Linked DNA regions of Homo sapiens: region 2 is linked to region 1. Evidence: fine-mapped QTL for protein levels in blood plasma. Region 1 holds a variant in brackets. A gene starts in the other region. All regions are shown on their forward strands.

Region 1 (8,112 bases):
TCAGAGCTCAAAAACTGGATTTCTGAAATAAGACAGGTGGATAAGAATAGAGAAAAAGAATAAAAAGCAATAAACAAGCTCTTTGAGAAATGCAAGATTATGTAAAGAGACCAAATCTAAAAGTGATTGGTGTACCTCAAAGAGGTAGGGAGAATGGAACCAAATTGAAAAACATATTTCAGGATATCATCCATAAGAAACTTCCCAACCTAGCGAGAGGTGCCAAGATTCACATTCAGGAAATTTAGAGAAAATCAGTAAGATAATTCACAAGAGGATCATCTCCAAAACACATAATCATGAGATTCTCCAAGGTCAAAATGAAAGAAAAAATGTTAAAGGCAGCCAGAGAGAGAGGATGGGTCACCTACAAACAGAAGCCCATTAGACTAACAGTGGACTTCTCAGCAGAAACCCTACAAGCCAGAAGAGATTGGGGGCCAATATTCAACATACTTAAGAAATTCCAACCCAGAAAATCATATCCAGTCAAACTAAGCTTCATACGTAAAGGAGAAATAAGATCCTTTTCAGACAAAAAAAAAAAAAAAAAAATGCAGAAATTTGGTACCACTAGAACTGCCTTACAAGAGCTTCAGAAGGAAGCACTAAATATGGAAAGAACATTATCAGCCACTACAAAAACACACTGAAGTACAGACCGGTGACTCTATAAAGCAATGACATAAGCAAGTCTGCAAAATAACCAGCTAACATCATGATGACATGATCAAATCCACACATATCAATAATAACCTCAAACATAAATGGGCTAAATGCACCAATTAAAAGACACAGGGTGGCAAGGTGGATAAAGAATAAAAAACAAATGGTATGCTGTCTTCAAGAGAACCATTTCACTTGCAATGACACACATAGGCTTAAAATAAAGGTAAAGAGAAAAATCTACCAAGCAAACGGGAAAGAGCAAAAAACAGAAGTTGCAATCTCAATTGCTGACAAAACAGACTTTAAACCAACAACGTTTTAAAAAAGACAAAGAAGTGCATTACATAATGGTAAAGCCCTCAATTAAACGAGACAATCTTACTATCCTAAATATATACACACCCAACAAATGAGCACCCAGATTCACAAAGCAAGTTTTTGGAGACCTTCAGAGAGACTTAGACTCCCACCCAATAATATTGGGAGACTTTAACACCCCACTGACAATATTAAATATGTCACTGAGACAGAAAATTAATGAAACATTCAGGACATAAACTCAGTACTGAGTCAGGTGGACCTGATAGATATCTACAGAACTCTCCACCCTAAACCAACAGAATATACACACTTCTTATCACCATATGACATGTACACTAAAATTGATCACATAATCAGGAGTAAAACACTCCCTATCAAATGCAAAATAACTAAAATTATAACAAACACTATTTTGGATATCAGCACAATCAAATTAGAAATCAAGACTAAGAAATTCCCTCAAAATCATACAATTATATGGAAATTGCATAATCTGCTCATGTATGACATTTGGGTAAATAATGAAATTAAAGCAGAAATGAAGAAGTTATTTGAAACTAATGAGAGCAAAGATACAATATACTAGAATCTCTGGGACACAGGTAATGCAGTATTAAGAGGAAAATTTATAGCATTAAATACCCACATCAAAAAGTTAGAAATATCTCAAGTTAACAACCTATCATCACAACTAAAAGAACTAAAGAATCAAGAAATCAAATCTCAAAGCCAGCAGAAGACAAAGAAATAACCAAAATCAGAGCTGAACTGAAGGAGACAGAGATGTGAAGAAACAACCAAAAGATCAATAAATTCAGGAGCTATTCTGTGAATAAATTAATAAAATACATCATTAGCTAGACCAATGAAAATGAAAAGAGAAAAGATTCAAGTAAATGCAATCAGAAATGCTAAGGCAGATGTTACAACTGACCCCACAGAAATACAAACAACCATCAGAAAATATTAAGAACACCTCTATGCATGTAAACTAGAAAATATAGAAGAAATGGATAAATTCCTGGACACATACACCCTCCCAAGAATGAATCAGGAAGAAATGGAATTCCTGAACACACAAATAATTAGTTCTTAAATAGAGGTGGTAATAAATAGCCTATGAACCAAGAAAATGCCCAGAACCATAGGGATTTATAGATGAATTATTCCAGATGTACAAAGAAGAGCTGGTACCATTTCTATTTAAACTATTCCAAAAAAACTGAGGAGAAAGGATTTCTTCCAAGCTCATTCCATGAGGCCAGCATCACCGTGACACCAAAACCTGGCAGCAGTACAACAAAAATAGAAAACTTCAGGCCAATATCCTTGATGAGCATCAATGCAAAACTCCTCAACAAAATACTGGCAAAACAAATCCAGCAGCACATCAAAAAGCTTATCCACCATGATCAAGTAGGCTTTATTCCTGGGATGCAAGGTTGGTTAACCTTATGCAAATCAATCAATGTGATTCATCACATAAACCGAACTAAAGACAAAAACCACATGATTATCTCAATAGATATATAAAAGGTTTTTGAAAATTTTCAACATCCATTCATGTTAAAAACTCCCAATAAACTAGGTATTGAAGAAACATGCCTCAAAATAATAAGAGCCATCTATTACAGACCCACAATCAATGTTATAATGAATGGGAAAAACTAGAAGCATTCCCCTTAAAAAGTGGCACAAGACAAGGATGTCCTCTCTAACCACTTCTATTCAAAATCCTATTGGAATTTCTGGCCAGGGCAATCAGGCGAGAGAAAGAAGCAAAGACATTCAAATAGAAAGAAAGGAAGTTAAACTATCCCTGTTTGCAGATGACATGATCCTATATCAAGTAAATTTCATAAACTCAGCCAAAAAGCTTCTTAAGCTGATAAAAAACTTCAGAAAAGTCTTACAATAGAAAATCAATGTGGAAAATTTCTAGCATTCCTATACAACAACAATAGTCAAGCCAAGGGCCAAATCAGGAATAAACTCCTATTAACAATTGCTACAATAGGAATAAACTACCTGGGAATACAGGGAACTAGAGAGGTGAAAGATCTCTACAAGGACAACTACAAATCACTATTCAAAGAAATCAGAGATGACACAAACAAATGGAAAGACATTGCATGTCAATGGATAGGAAGAATCAATATTAAAATTACCTTACTTGTCAAATCAATATATAGATTTGGTGCTATTCCCAATTAAACTACCATTGAAATTCATCACAGAACTAGAAAAAAGATTTAAAAATGTATATGGAACCAAAAAAGAGCTCAAATAGCCAAAAATAACAAATCTGGAGGCATCACGCTACCTGACTTCAAACTATACTACTGGGCTACAGTAAACAAAGCAGCATCGTGCTGGTAAAAAATAGACACATAGACCAATGAAACAGAATAGGGAACCCAGAAATAAGACTGCATATCTACAAGTATCTGGACTTCAACAAATCTGACAAAAACAAGCGATGGGGAATGGAATTCCTATTCAATAAGTGATGCTGGGATAACTAGCTAACCATAAGCAGAAGATTGAAACTGGACCCCTTCCTTACACCATATACAAAAATTAGCTCAGTGTGGATTACACACTTAAATGTAAAACCCAAAACTATAAAAACTCTGCAGACAACTAGGGAATATTATTCATGACATATGCATGGGCAAACATTTTATGACAAAGACACAAAAAGCAATGGCAACAAAAGCAAAAATTGACAAATGGAGTCTAATTAAACTAAAGAGCTTCTGCACAGAAAAGGAAACTATCAACAGAGTAAGCAGATAACCTACAGAATGAAAGAAAATTTTTGCAAGCTATGCATCTAACAAAGGTCTAATATACAGCATCCAAAAGGAACTTTAACAAATTTACAAGAAAAAAAACTAACCCAATTAAAAGTGGGCAAAAGACATAAAGACACTTTTCAAAAGAAGACATACAAATGGCCAAGAATTATATGTTAAAAAGCTCAACACCACTGATCATTAGAGAAGTGTAAATCAAAACCACAATGAGATACCATCTCATACCAGTAAGAATGGCTACTATTAAATAAAAAAATGACAGATGCTGGCAAAGTTGAGGAGAAAAAGGAATGCTTATACACTGTTGGTGTGAGCGTAAATTATTTCCACCATTGTGGAAGACAGGGAGGATATTTCTCAAAGACTCAAACACAGAAATATTATTTGACCCAGAAATCCCATTACTAGGTATATAACCAAAGGAATATAAATTATTCTATTGCAAAGACACAAGCATATGTATGTTCATTGCAGCACCATGCACAATAGCAAAGACATGGAATCAACCTAATTGCCCATCAATTATAGAATGGATAAAAATTGGTAGATATTTACCATGGAATACTATGGAACCATAACAAAGAATGAGATTATGTCCTTTGTAGGGAC[A/G]TGGATGGAGCTGGAAGCCTTTATCCTTGGCAAACAAAAACAGGAACAGAAAACCAATTACTGCATGTTCTCACTTACAAGTGCAAGCTAAATTATGAGAACACATGGACACATAGAGGGGAACAACAGACACAGGCTTTTCAGAGGGTGGAGGGTGGGAGGACAGAGAGAATCAAGAAAAACAACTAATGGTTACTAGGCTTAATAGCTGGGTGAAACCAACCAACTATCTCTTGCCTTCAGGAGACTCACCTAACACATAAGGACTCACATAAACTTAAAGTAAAGGGATGGAAAAAGACATTTCATGCAAATGGACACCAAAAGTGAGCAGGGTTTGCTGCGCTTATATCAGAAAAAACAAACTTTGGAGCAACAGCAACTAAAAGAGACAAGGAAGGACATTACATAATGGTAAAAAGCCTTGTTGAACAGGAAAATATCACAATCCTAAACGTATATGCACCTAACACTGGAGCTCCCAAATTTATAAAACAATTACTAATAGACCTAAGGAATGAGATAGACAGCAACACAATAATAGTGGAGGAATTCAATGCTCCTCTGACATCACTAGACAGATCATTGTGACAGAAAGTCAACAAAGAAACAACAGGTGTAAAGTATACCCTGGAACAAATGAACTTAAAAGGTGTATACAGAACTTTTCATCCAAAAACTGCAGAATGCACATTCTATTAAATATCACATGGAACTTTCTCCAAGGTGGACCATATGACAGGTCATAAAATGAGCCTCAATAAATTTAAGAGAATTTAAATTGTATCAAGCACTCTCTCAGACCACCATGGTATAAAGCTGGAAGTCAACTAGAAAAAGAACCTTAAAAACCATGCAAATACATGGAAATTAAATAACCTGCTCCTGAATGAGCTTTGGGTGAAAAACGAAATCAAGATGGAAATTAAACATTTCTTTGAACTGAATGACAATAATGACACAATCTACCAAAACCTCTGGGATACAGCAAAGGCAGTTCTAAGAGGAAAGTTCACAGCCCTAAACATCTACATCAGAAAGTCTGAATGATCACAAACTGATATTCTAAGGTCACACCTCAAGTATCTAGAGAAACAAGAACAAGCCAAACCCAAACCCAGGAGAAGAAAGGAAATACCCAAGATCAGAGCAGAAATAAATAAAATTGAAACAAAGAAACAAACAAAAAATACAAAAGATAAATGTGATAAAAAGCTGGTTCTTTGAAAAGGTAAATAAAATTTATAGACCCTTAGCAAGATTAACCAAGAAAAGAAGAGAGAAAATCCAAATAACCTCACTGAGAAACAAAAAAGGAGATATTACAACTGACGCCACTGAAATACAAAAGATCATTCAAGGCTACTATGAACACCTTTATGCATATAAACTAGAAAATCTAGAAGAGATAGATAAATTCATGGAAAAATACAACCCTCCTAGCTTAAATCAGGAAGAATTAGATATCCTGAACAGACCAATAACAAGCAGTGAGATTAAAACGGTAATTACAAAATTATCAACAGAAAAAGAAGTTGAAGACCAGATGAATTCATAGCTGAATTCTACCGGACATTCAAAGAACTGGTACCAAACTTTTTGACACTATTACACAAGATAGAGAAACAAGGAACTATCCCTAATTCATTCTATGAAGCCAGCATCACCCTAACACCAAAACCAGGAAAGGACATAACCAAAAAAGAAAACTACAGACAGATATCCTTGATGAACATAGATACTAAAATCCTTAACAAAATACTAGCTAACCGAATCCGACAACATATCAAAAAGATAATCCATGATCAAGTGGGCTTCATACCAGGCATGCAGGGATGGTTTAACACATGCAAGTCAATAAATGTGATACACCACATAAACAGAATTAAAAACAAAATTCACATGATTATCTCATAAGATGAAGAAAAAGCATTTGACAAAATTCAACATCTCTTTATGATTAAGACTCTCAGCAAAATTGGCATATAAGGGACATATCTCAATGTAGTAAATGTCATCTTTGACAAACCCACAGCCAAGATAATACTGAATGGGAAAATGTAGAAAGCATTCCCTCTGAGAACTGGAACAAAAAAAGGATGTCCATTCTCACCACTCAACTTCAACATAATACTGGAAGTCTTAGCCAGAGTAATCTGAGAATAGAAAAAAATAAAGGGCATTCAAATTGGTAAATAGAAGTCAAATTGTCACTGTTTATTGATAATATGATTGTTTACCTTGAAAATCCTAAAGACTCCTTCAGAAAGCTCCTAGAACTGATAAAAGAATTCAGCAAACTTTTCAGATACAAGGTTCATGTACACAAATCAGTAGCTCTTCTATACACCAACAGTGACCAAGTGGAGAATCAAATCAAAAACTCAACCCCTTTCACCATAGCAGCAAAAAAAAAAAAAAAGGAAAGAAAAAGAAAAGAAAAGAAAACTTAAGATTATACCTAACCAAGGAATCAAAAGAACTCTACAAGGAAAACTACAAAACACTGCAGAAAGAAATCATAGATGACACAAACAAATAGAAACACATCCCATGCTCATGGATGGGTAGAATCAATATTGTGAAAATGACCATACTACCAAAAGCAATCTGCAAATTTAATGTAATCCCCATAAAAATACCACCCATTATTCTTCACATAATTAGAAAAAAAAACAATACCAAACTTCGTATGGAACCAAAAAAGAGTCCACATAGCCAAAGGAAGACTAAGCAAAAATGGAACAAATCTGGAGGCATCAAACTACCTGAATTTAAACTATACTATAAAGCCATAGTCACAAAAACAGCATGGTACTTGTATAAAAATAGGCACATAGAACAATGGAACAGAATAGAGAACCCAGAAATTAACCCAAATATTTACAGCCAACTGATCTCTGAGAAATCAAACAAAAAACATAAAGTGGGGAAAGGACACCCTTTTCAACATAATGCTGAGATAATTGGCTAGTTACATGTAGGAGAATGAAATTGCATCATCATCTCTCAACTTATATAAAACTCAACTCAAGACGGATTAAGGACTTAAACCTAAGACCTGAAACTATAAAAATTCTAAAAGATAACATTGCAAAAACCCTTCTAGACATTGGCTTAGGTGAGAATTTCATGACCAAACACCCAAAAGCAAATGCAACAGAAAACAAACAAAAACCATAAATAGCTGGGACCTAATTAAATAAAAGAGCTTTCTCACAACAAAACGAACAGTCAGCAGACTAAACAGGAAACCCACAGAGGGGGAAAAAGTTTTCACAAGCTATACTTCTGACAAAGGACTAATATCCAAAATCTACAATGAACTTAAAAAAATTCATAAGAAAAACAAACAATCCCATCAAAAAGTGGGCTAAGAACCTGAACAGACAATTCTCAAAAAAAATTACAATAGCCAATAAGCATATGAAAAAATGCTCAACATCACTAATGATCAAGGAAATGCAAATAAAAAATGCAATGCAATACCACCTTACTCCCAGAAGAATGCCCATAATCAAAAAATTATAAAACAGTAGATGCCAGTGTGGATGTGGTGATCAGAGAACACTTCTACAAGTGGTGGGAATATAAGCTAGTACAGCCACTATGGAAAACAGTAAACAGTGTGGAGATTCCTTAAAGAACTAAAAATAGAACTACCATATGATCCAGCAATCCCACTATTGAGTAT
Region 2 (8,112 bases), not on the chromosome of region 1:
CTCGGTAGGAAGTAGAAGCTAGGGTGGGTCCCAAGGAAGGCATTTCACAGTCTCTGTGTAAGAGCCTCATTCTCAGAATGCTTTTGTTGAGTAACTGGGCAATTCTACCAACCTCACCTCCACCCCACTGTCCACCTTACACCCCCATCTCCTACTCCCCCACACCCACTTCATTCTATTTTGGCCTTCAATCAGCCTCATTTCCTGATGCTGTACTCAGTGAACCACTTGCAGAAAGACAGTGTCACACACAAAAATTGCTTCTAGAGAAGGTACTTGGAGGTTCTGGGGTTGGAGGGCTCCTAATATAAGAACAGTGTCCATGTGTTCAGGTGGTCTCTTCTGGGGCACCCCTTAGTACTATGAGCCCAGGGCAGAGCCTGGCTCAGGAACAGCAAGCAGGCCAGCCCTGGTCACGGCCTTGCTTTTTCAACTTCAAGCAAAATATTTAACTTGCATACCCTTTACAGCTCACCCACTTTCTCAAAGATTCATTCATATTTAACCCCCAATGTCCTGTTTATAGCTCTCTGGATTGGGGGGTACAGGGTGTACAAGGGATAGAAAAATGGAAAGTAAGGAACTGTCCAGAAGGAACTGGAACAATGATGACTCCCTCCTTCTTTCCATGCTTCAGAGAGACTGGGGGAAAAACAGCCTCACCCAGATATCCAGCTGGGATTGACCAGGGACTATGCCTATCAGCCCAATCCCACCCTTTTATCCCCCATCAGGAAAAAGGTGCCCACATCCATGGCTACAGCCATGTGTCTTACAGAAGGGTAAGCATGATACGTTAGACTAGAGACTTAGAGTCTCAAGCTAGAGGGACTTCAAAGAATACCATGTGGCCAGGCACGGTGGCTCACGCCTGTAATCCCAACACTTTGGGAGGCTGAGGCAGGTGGATCACCTGAGGTCGGGAGTTCGAGACCAGCCTTGCCAACATGGCAAAAATCTCATCTCTACAAAAAATACAAAAATTAGCCGGGCGTGGTGGTGTGTGCCTGTTATCGCAGCTACTCAGGAGGCTGAGGCAGGAGAATCACTTGAACCTGGGAGGCAGAGATTGCAGTGAGCTGAGATCGTGCCATTGCACTCCAGCCTGGGTGACAGAGTGAGACTATGTTTAAAAAAAAAAAAAAGAAAAAAAGAAAAAACTCATGGCAGGCAGAGTGACTTACTCAAGGTCATGCAGGATTGGGATTAGAACTGTGTTCTCTGGACTTCACTCCAATGTCCTTCCTCACCACACCAAGCTGCCTCACACACTCCCATCTCCTCCCTCTCACAAGTCTAGAGCACCTGAGATGCTGATCCAGGCATGAATGGGCTCTGAAGTCCATAGACCTGTGCTCCAATTTCAGCTATTTACTGTGGGCAGTCACTTAACTCCTCTGAACCTCAGGTTCTCAGTAAAATGTGGATAGCCAAAGTAACTATCTCAAAAGGTTGCTATAAGTGTTACATTAGCCAGGATAACATATCAAGTGCCTAGAACACAGTAGGAATTTAATAAATGGTAGCAGTCATTTATTTTAGGTGGTAGGATCCCCAGACCTGAAAAATAGTCCTTGCCCAGCAAAGCCAAAAGAAGGGAAGAGAAGTAGGTGCCAGCAGCCCCCACAGTCTTTCATTTCCTCTCATCCAGTCCCAGGCCCCCTCAGAGCTCAGAAGGTGATACAGGTGGTCAGAGGAACCCAGTGACCAGAGCTTCGGGGAGAGCAAGGCAGGGGGGCCAAGCCAATCAGAAAGGGGAGGGAGAAGGTGCAGGGTGACAGCCAGGCTCCTGCCATGGACAGGGAGCAGTGAGTCAGGTCTGCAGAGGTAAGAGGAGCAGCCGTGTGGGTGGGGGGTGGGGGTGGGGTGAGTCACAGCCCAGCCCTGCCCAGCCTAGGAGGAGAGGGCCAGGAGAATCCAGGCTGTTCAGGTCATGGGCAACCCCAGAGGGCCACTGGGAGAGGATGAAGTATGGGAGCCCAGGCTCAGTTTTGGAGTATGTGCTTGATTTATACAAAGTAGAGAGAGTATCCAAGGAAAGCTCCTGGGAATGAGGGAGAAGGGCAGCTGAGGAGCAGGTGGAACTAGAACAGGTGGGCATCTGTCCAACCAAATATAGTCATTCCAGGGTACAGTGCTGAGTCCTTGCTCTACTCTGGATAATCTCCTCAGGTTTGGAGGCAGGAGAGCTGGCAGGCTCTGGACTCTGCCCTGTACCTGTACTTGGCCACAGCCAAAGAGGCTGGTTGGAGGATCCTACACAGCCCTCCCCATTTGGAGTCTCCTCAGGAATGCAAGGTGCTCAGTAAGCTGCAGGTTTCCGGTAGCATTCACAGATATCCAGCATTTTAATACAGCCCCCTAGGGGCTCAGTGCTCACCATTCACAGCCTCATCTAGGGCGGCCAAGAGCTCCTCATTCCCCTCTGTTTCCCCAATCTGGAGACAGGTGGATGGAGGAGGCCAACACTGCACACTTTCTAGAGATGTGCCTGGGCATCTCCGCATGTGTTACCTCTATTTTATATATAATAGTCATTTGATATGGGAATTAGAACTGGCGCCCATTTTTACATAGTAGCTCTAGGGAAAGCATCTCAACCATTCCTTGTTCCTATCACCCAGCTTACCTAAGAAGAACGTAACAACCCCAGACAACACGTCTGATTCAATTTGCCCCGGAGTACCCAGAAGGGCAGCAACCCAGCAGGTGAGGCAATGACAAGAGAGAGAGAGTGGGACCTATATTCCAGGATCCCCCAGTGCCCATCAGGCCGATCAGCTTTTCCCCGAGGTTCTCCATGAATACCCTCAACCCACAGTATTGCCCAAACAGCAAGAATCTTGGATCTGCTTATTCTTCAACAGCCCACCAAGGTCCAAGGATGGGGGGCCTCCACACCCACCTCTCAAAAGGTCCAGATCTGCCTCTTGCAAGTCACGGACTTTCCGGTCCCGGCCGCCTCCTAGGGGTAGCAGCTGGTCCGTGGATACAGTGGGAGGGTCCGGGTTGCTGGTTCCAGCAGCTAGCCCTCTCCGAAGCCGCTCCAGGCTCTCGCCAGTCACCAGTGCCGAGAGAACTGCGGGCGAGAGGCCAGGCCGCATCAGACACCCGCCCAGACCCCTGACCAACACGCACCGATGCCGACGCCCGTCCGCCAGAGCGCAAGGGCCCCACCAAGTGGCCCGTGCCGGGTGCGCTGCGGCGACCTTCCCCCATGCCCCCAGCACAACGCCCCCATCCCCCCGATCTCCGGGGGCGTCGGCAGCCCTCTTACCTGCAGCCAGAAAGAGCTTCAGCACCACCGACGGCAGCAGCTTCATGGTCCCGCACCGAGAGGAGGCGGCGAGGCACCAGTCACTTTCGAAGCGGCGGCCACTGGGCGCTGGCACCAGAGCTGGGCGGCGGAGCTCAGGAGATTCCGCCGGGCACCGTCTGCCGCCCGCCTCTGCGTGCAAGCCTGGCCGGGACCCAGGCGCAGCTCGCTCTTCTTGAGTGTCTTGTCTTGCTCACTCAGCCCGCCCGCGCGGCCGCCCGACCCCGCGCGCCTAGGTCAGGCCAGCCAGCAGCGTGGCCCGCGTAGCTCCTTCGGCCGAATGAGCGCTGCCCGGCTCGCGGCCGGGAATAAGGCTCCAGGAGGCGCGGAAGCTCCGCCCCGCCCGGCGCCGCCCCCTCCCTCCTCCCGTGCTGGGAAGCTCGCCCGGCTCGCGGCGCCGGCAGCGCAGCCCCCGACCCCGCGGGCGCGGCGGAGGACTGGGCGGGAGGAGAGGGCGGCGTTCACAATTTTTGGGACCAGGCCGAGGCAGCCGCGGCCTGATTGTGGGTAGGGCTACTGACCGGCAGGTGGCGGAGAGCGGTTCCTACCTTTCCCCAAACGCCTGTCACTCTGCAGCCTTGTGACTGACTGCTGAGCTGAGTTCTGTTCCGGGCCTGGCCTCTTGCTTCATCTAAGCCCCATACCAGGGGTCTCCATCCCTGTCACCCTCTAAGTTTCAGAAGCCCACCTTTTGGCCTACCAACACGGCAAGTATCAAATAATAATTAATTCATCTATCATTTAAAAATTAGACACGTGAATGCCAGCCGTTCTCATAAACCCGAGATAACCAGAGTTGAAGTTGCAGGCACTTAGTATCAATCCAGCAAAAGCAAAGGAAGTTAGTACTCTCTTAGTCTCTGGAGTGGCTTCCTCCCATCTTCCCTCAGGGGACATTAGGATTTTTGAACTATGGGTTGTAATTCCCAGGCTTCTGAGATTGGAGAGACACAGGTTGTGAAACAAGCCTTATTCTTTTCCTTGCCTTTGACTGCCACCTTTTTCCTCAACATAAAAAATGAGCCACCCTCCCATAGGACCCAGCTGGCTAACCTAGATTGCTGTTTCACAGACACTAGGTGTTTCTCTTCCAACCCATGTGCTTTTGCAGGGGTCTTCTGGAGTCACTGTCCTGACCCAAAGAAATGAGTGTCTCAGTAGGTATTTCAGTTTCCAGGGACGTGCTGGGGAGAGAGTTGTTTGACACAGGGCTGGGTTGGCTTTCAGAGCCCTGAAATTGTGCCAGATAGAGCACTTGCCGGATTCTGCCTGTGTGTAGGGATAAAAACAGGCCTGCTATTTATACACAGTCTATCCCACTGTCCCTCCCTATCCCCACCTTTGCAGGGGTCAGTCTGGCCCTGCCCTCTTAACTTGCTCCAGTAACCTAGGCCTAGGTTTCCATAGTGCACTGGAATCACTACAGACCTGAGTTTGAATCCTGCCTTTGCTACTTACTGTGTGACCTTGGACAAGAAACTTAATTTCACTGAGCCTCAGTTTTGACGTCTCTCAAATGGAAAAAATAATAACAATAATAATAATGACTACTTTGTAGGGAGCTTTTTGAGAAATGAATGCGGGAACACATAAAAGTAGTTAGTATAGTGCCAGGCACACTATAAGCTCTCAATAAATGTGACCCATTATTATTGTTGCTGTTAATAATAATCACTAAGCACTTGACCACTCTATTTCCTTAGAGGCCTCTTTTCTCTCACTTCTCTAGATCGCTTGCCTTCCCCTAGGCCATATCTGAGGCTTTATGATATAGTTGGGCTGGTTTCAGACAGAAGCTCACCTGTCACCTATTTGGCTAAGAGCCACTGTTAGATTATCCTTTTGGGTGATGAGTATCGGGCCTAGGACCTCAGTGCATGGTCACCGCCCAAGCCATGACTTTGCCCTCCCTCAGCAGCTGCCTGGCCACCTGCTTCCCCAAAACAAAGCCACCTTGGGGTCAAGGCTCTCCCCAGGGGAGGGTGGAGAGAAACACTTCCTGACACATGGTCAAATCACCCCCTTTCCCCCACCCTCGCCAGAGTCACACCCTGCTCTCTTGCCCCAGCCTGCCTTTCTCCCTTCACATGCTCTGTCCTTCCGCCTTCTCACCCCCACATCAGCCTCAGTCCCATTCATGGGGCAACTCCAAACTTTCATCACACCTGGAGCCTCACCCCAGCTAGGTTTGTGTGTCAGCCAGGTTTTACAGGAAGGGCCTGAAAAAAGAAGATAAAAAGCTTGAATTGGATTTGGGACAGTCACTTCCCCTCTCAGAATCTTGGATGTCTCTGAGCAAAGAAAAGGAATCACAATTCATGCTGAGGCAATCTCATTAACTCAATTATATCATAAACATTAACTGAACATTTTTGGGGGGCACTGGGGACATAGAAATAAATAAGACAGCCCAGGACCTGCTTTCACAGAGCTTATATTCTATAGTAGACAGGCAGCACATTAAGGAAATAAACAAGGAAAAACATATCCTATAGTGATAACTGCTAAGATGAAAGTTAAAATACAATGATGTGCTGTAGGATAATATGTTCCAGTGCCCAGGATGACACTTTAAACTGATTAGCAAAGCCTTCTCTGAGCAGGTGACATGTAAGCTGAGGCCTGAATGAGAAGAAGAAATCAGATTTGGGATCATCTATGACAAAAGCATTCCAAGATGTGCAAATAGTGCAAAGACTCTGAAATGGAAAAAAGTTGGGAGCATTCAAGGAAAAGCAAGAGGGCCAAAAAAGGAGAGATATGGGATGATATTGGAACAAAGGCTAGCAACAGATAAAAGAGGACGTTATAAGCCAAGGTAGACACTGGATTTTATGCCCCATTATTGTCAGAATCATATGAGATGTCAATGAGACAGCACTGTCATGCAGGATTCCTCCATATTGTCCCCTCCTCCTGCTCAGGTCTCCCCCACCTGCTCTCTGGATGTCAGGTTGTCAAATGCCAGGAACATAGTCCTAAGGAAGTAGAGTTCAGACAGACAAGCCTGCTTTTATTGACTGTCTATTGACCATGAGCAAACTGAGGCTTGGAGACTGATTAGCCCTGGGCCACCAGTGAGTCAGAAGGGGGCAAGTGCAGAGCAGAAACCCTGGCATCCTGCTTCCCAGCCCATGCGAGTTTCCTGGGCCTCTGGAAAGGCAGGCTCCATGGGACTCTGAGTGCTGCTGACTCACTGCTAGGCCAGAGTTCTTGATTTGGAGAGAGCACTTGCTCCCCAGTGGGGAGGACCTGGAAGAAAGCGGTGCTAGTGGTGACAATTCCCCTGTAATCAACACTGCACATGCATTATCTTGCTTGATCCTCACAACATCCCCCAAACTAGACACTGTTATCATCATCTGCATTTTAAAGGATTGAAGCTTTAAAAGGTAACATCCCAAGGTCACCCAGCTAGTGAGTGTCTCAGCCTCAATTTGAAACCCCCTCGTTCACTTGGGCTTGTGCTCTCCTAAGCTCAACACTCAAATGGATGAGACGACAGCCGCCATCTCTATGCTTCTGTGGAGGGTAACATTATCAGTTTTACTGAGTTTCAGTCCTTCATCTGTTCTGAGGGATAATAAGAAACTCTGGCTCACTAGACTGGAAGGATGCTTAGGTAAGCACAGCAGGGCAGCTAATGAAATGGATACAGTCTTGGGAGTCAGATACTTGGGGGTTCAAATTTTGTTGGTTTTTTTTTCTTTCTAACTTTGAACATGTTATTCAATTTCTCTTACCTACAGTTTGCTCACCTGAAAAGTGGGGACAATAATAGTAGTTATTATTATAGGGCTTTTGTGATGATTCAGTCAGATCATGTGTATAAAGCGGAATATGATGCCTGGCACATAGTAGGTACTTACTCAATGACAGCGGTTATTATGACCAAATTTTTTTCTTGCTTTCTTTCCTTTTTCTTTTTAAGTGGGAACTTGAATAAAATGTTGGTTTATCATGAGCTAGCCATCCTCAGAGATGAAGTGTTCCTTTCTGGGAGATGGCCATGCTTATCAAAGAGATGCTAGATCTGCAAGGCCACCCAGAGTTTTGGAAACCTCAACCCAAAAAAGCAACTCAGGCTCAGAGGTCAGAGGGAAGCTGTGCCCCCTGGGGGAGAGGATTCAGCTGCCTTCTCATTCCCCTCTGACCAGAAGTGAATCCTGCACAGCCCTTGAACTCTGCTGCGTTGGGGAGAGGGGTAAAGAAGGGCACCTCCATTAAGGGTAGGTCTGACCATGAGCCCAGAGTTACCCAAACTTGGAATGTCAGGATGAGGGGTCATTGCTTCTTGGCCCAGGCTGGCTTCTCTCACCCCATCTGAGACAGTTAATCAAACAGTTTGGGCATACAGCTGGATTAGATTAGAATTCAGGCCTGCCCTTTGGAGCCCCCGTGTACCTTCTTATGCTGGCTGGGCACCTGGAAGTAGCGTGCTTCATGCATATTCAGGGATGAACAGGCTCTGCTGTCTGATTGTTTGGGGCTAGGATCTATTTGAATAGGATGAAGGATAGGAATGGATGAGATAGGGGGAGGCTTTTGGAGGTGAGGGGGTTTCAGGAATCCCTGTCATCTCCAGAAGATGTTGAGGAAGGAATATTTATAATGTGCTGGATCCCAAACCATCCTTCTCTATTTCTGGTCCCATTTTTGTGACTTTGAATGATTAACATCTCCAGACCAAGGACTTTGCCCCTACAGCCATCCCCTCTGTGTTGGCCAGCACAGAGAGAAAGTGATTCCTCCCTCATTACACACCCATCTCTCTCTTCAAGCCTCAGATTCCTCAA

Which allele goes with the higher level. Positions count from the first base shown, and alleles are read on the strand shown. Strength reflects both the effect of a copy and how common the allele is.
With allele G in place of A in region 1, the plasma level of the protein whose gene starts at base 3,598 in region 2 is higher (weak association).

What was found. PIP is the posterior inclusion probability: the model's chance that the variant is causal. Protein levels are from antibody-based Olink assays in UK Biobank. Linkage for the fine-mapping came from a reference panel and not from the study's own genotypes, which makes the PIPs less certain.
Region 2: it holds the start of HBEGF, and the variant in region 1 is fine-mapped to the plasma level of the HBEGF protein (UK Biobank, PIP above 0.99).

The regions. Positions count from the first base shown.
Region 1 is chrX:67,069,380-67,077,491 of GRCh38, forward strand. No RefSeq gene overlaps it. Among named protein-coding and RNA genes, the nearest start is that of EDA2R, 430 kb to the left of the region's middle. The variant A/G (reference allele first, on the strand shown) is at 4,419.
Region 2 is chr5:140,343,006-140,351,117 of GRCh38, forward strand. It overlaps HBEGF (heparin binding EGF like growth factor), which reads right to left and starts at 3,598. Exons shown (of 6, transcript NM_001945.3): 1 at 3,278-3,598; 2 at 2,906-3,079. The coding sequence starts at 3,323. RefSeq lists silencers at 3,513-3,792, 3,833-3,882.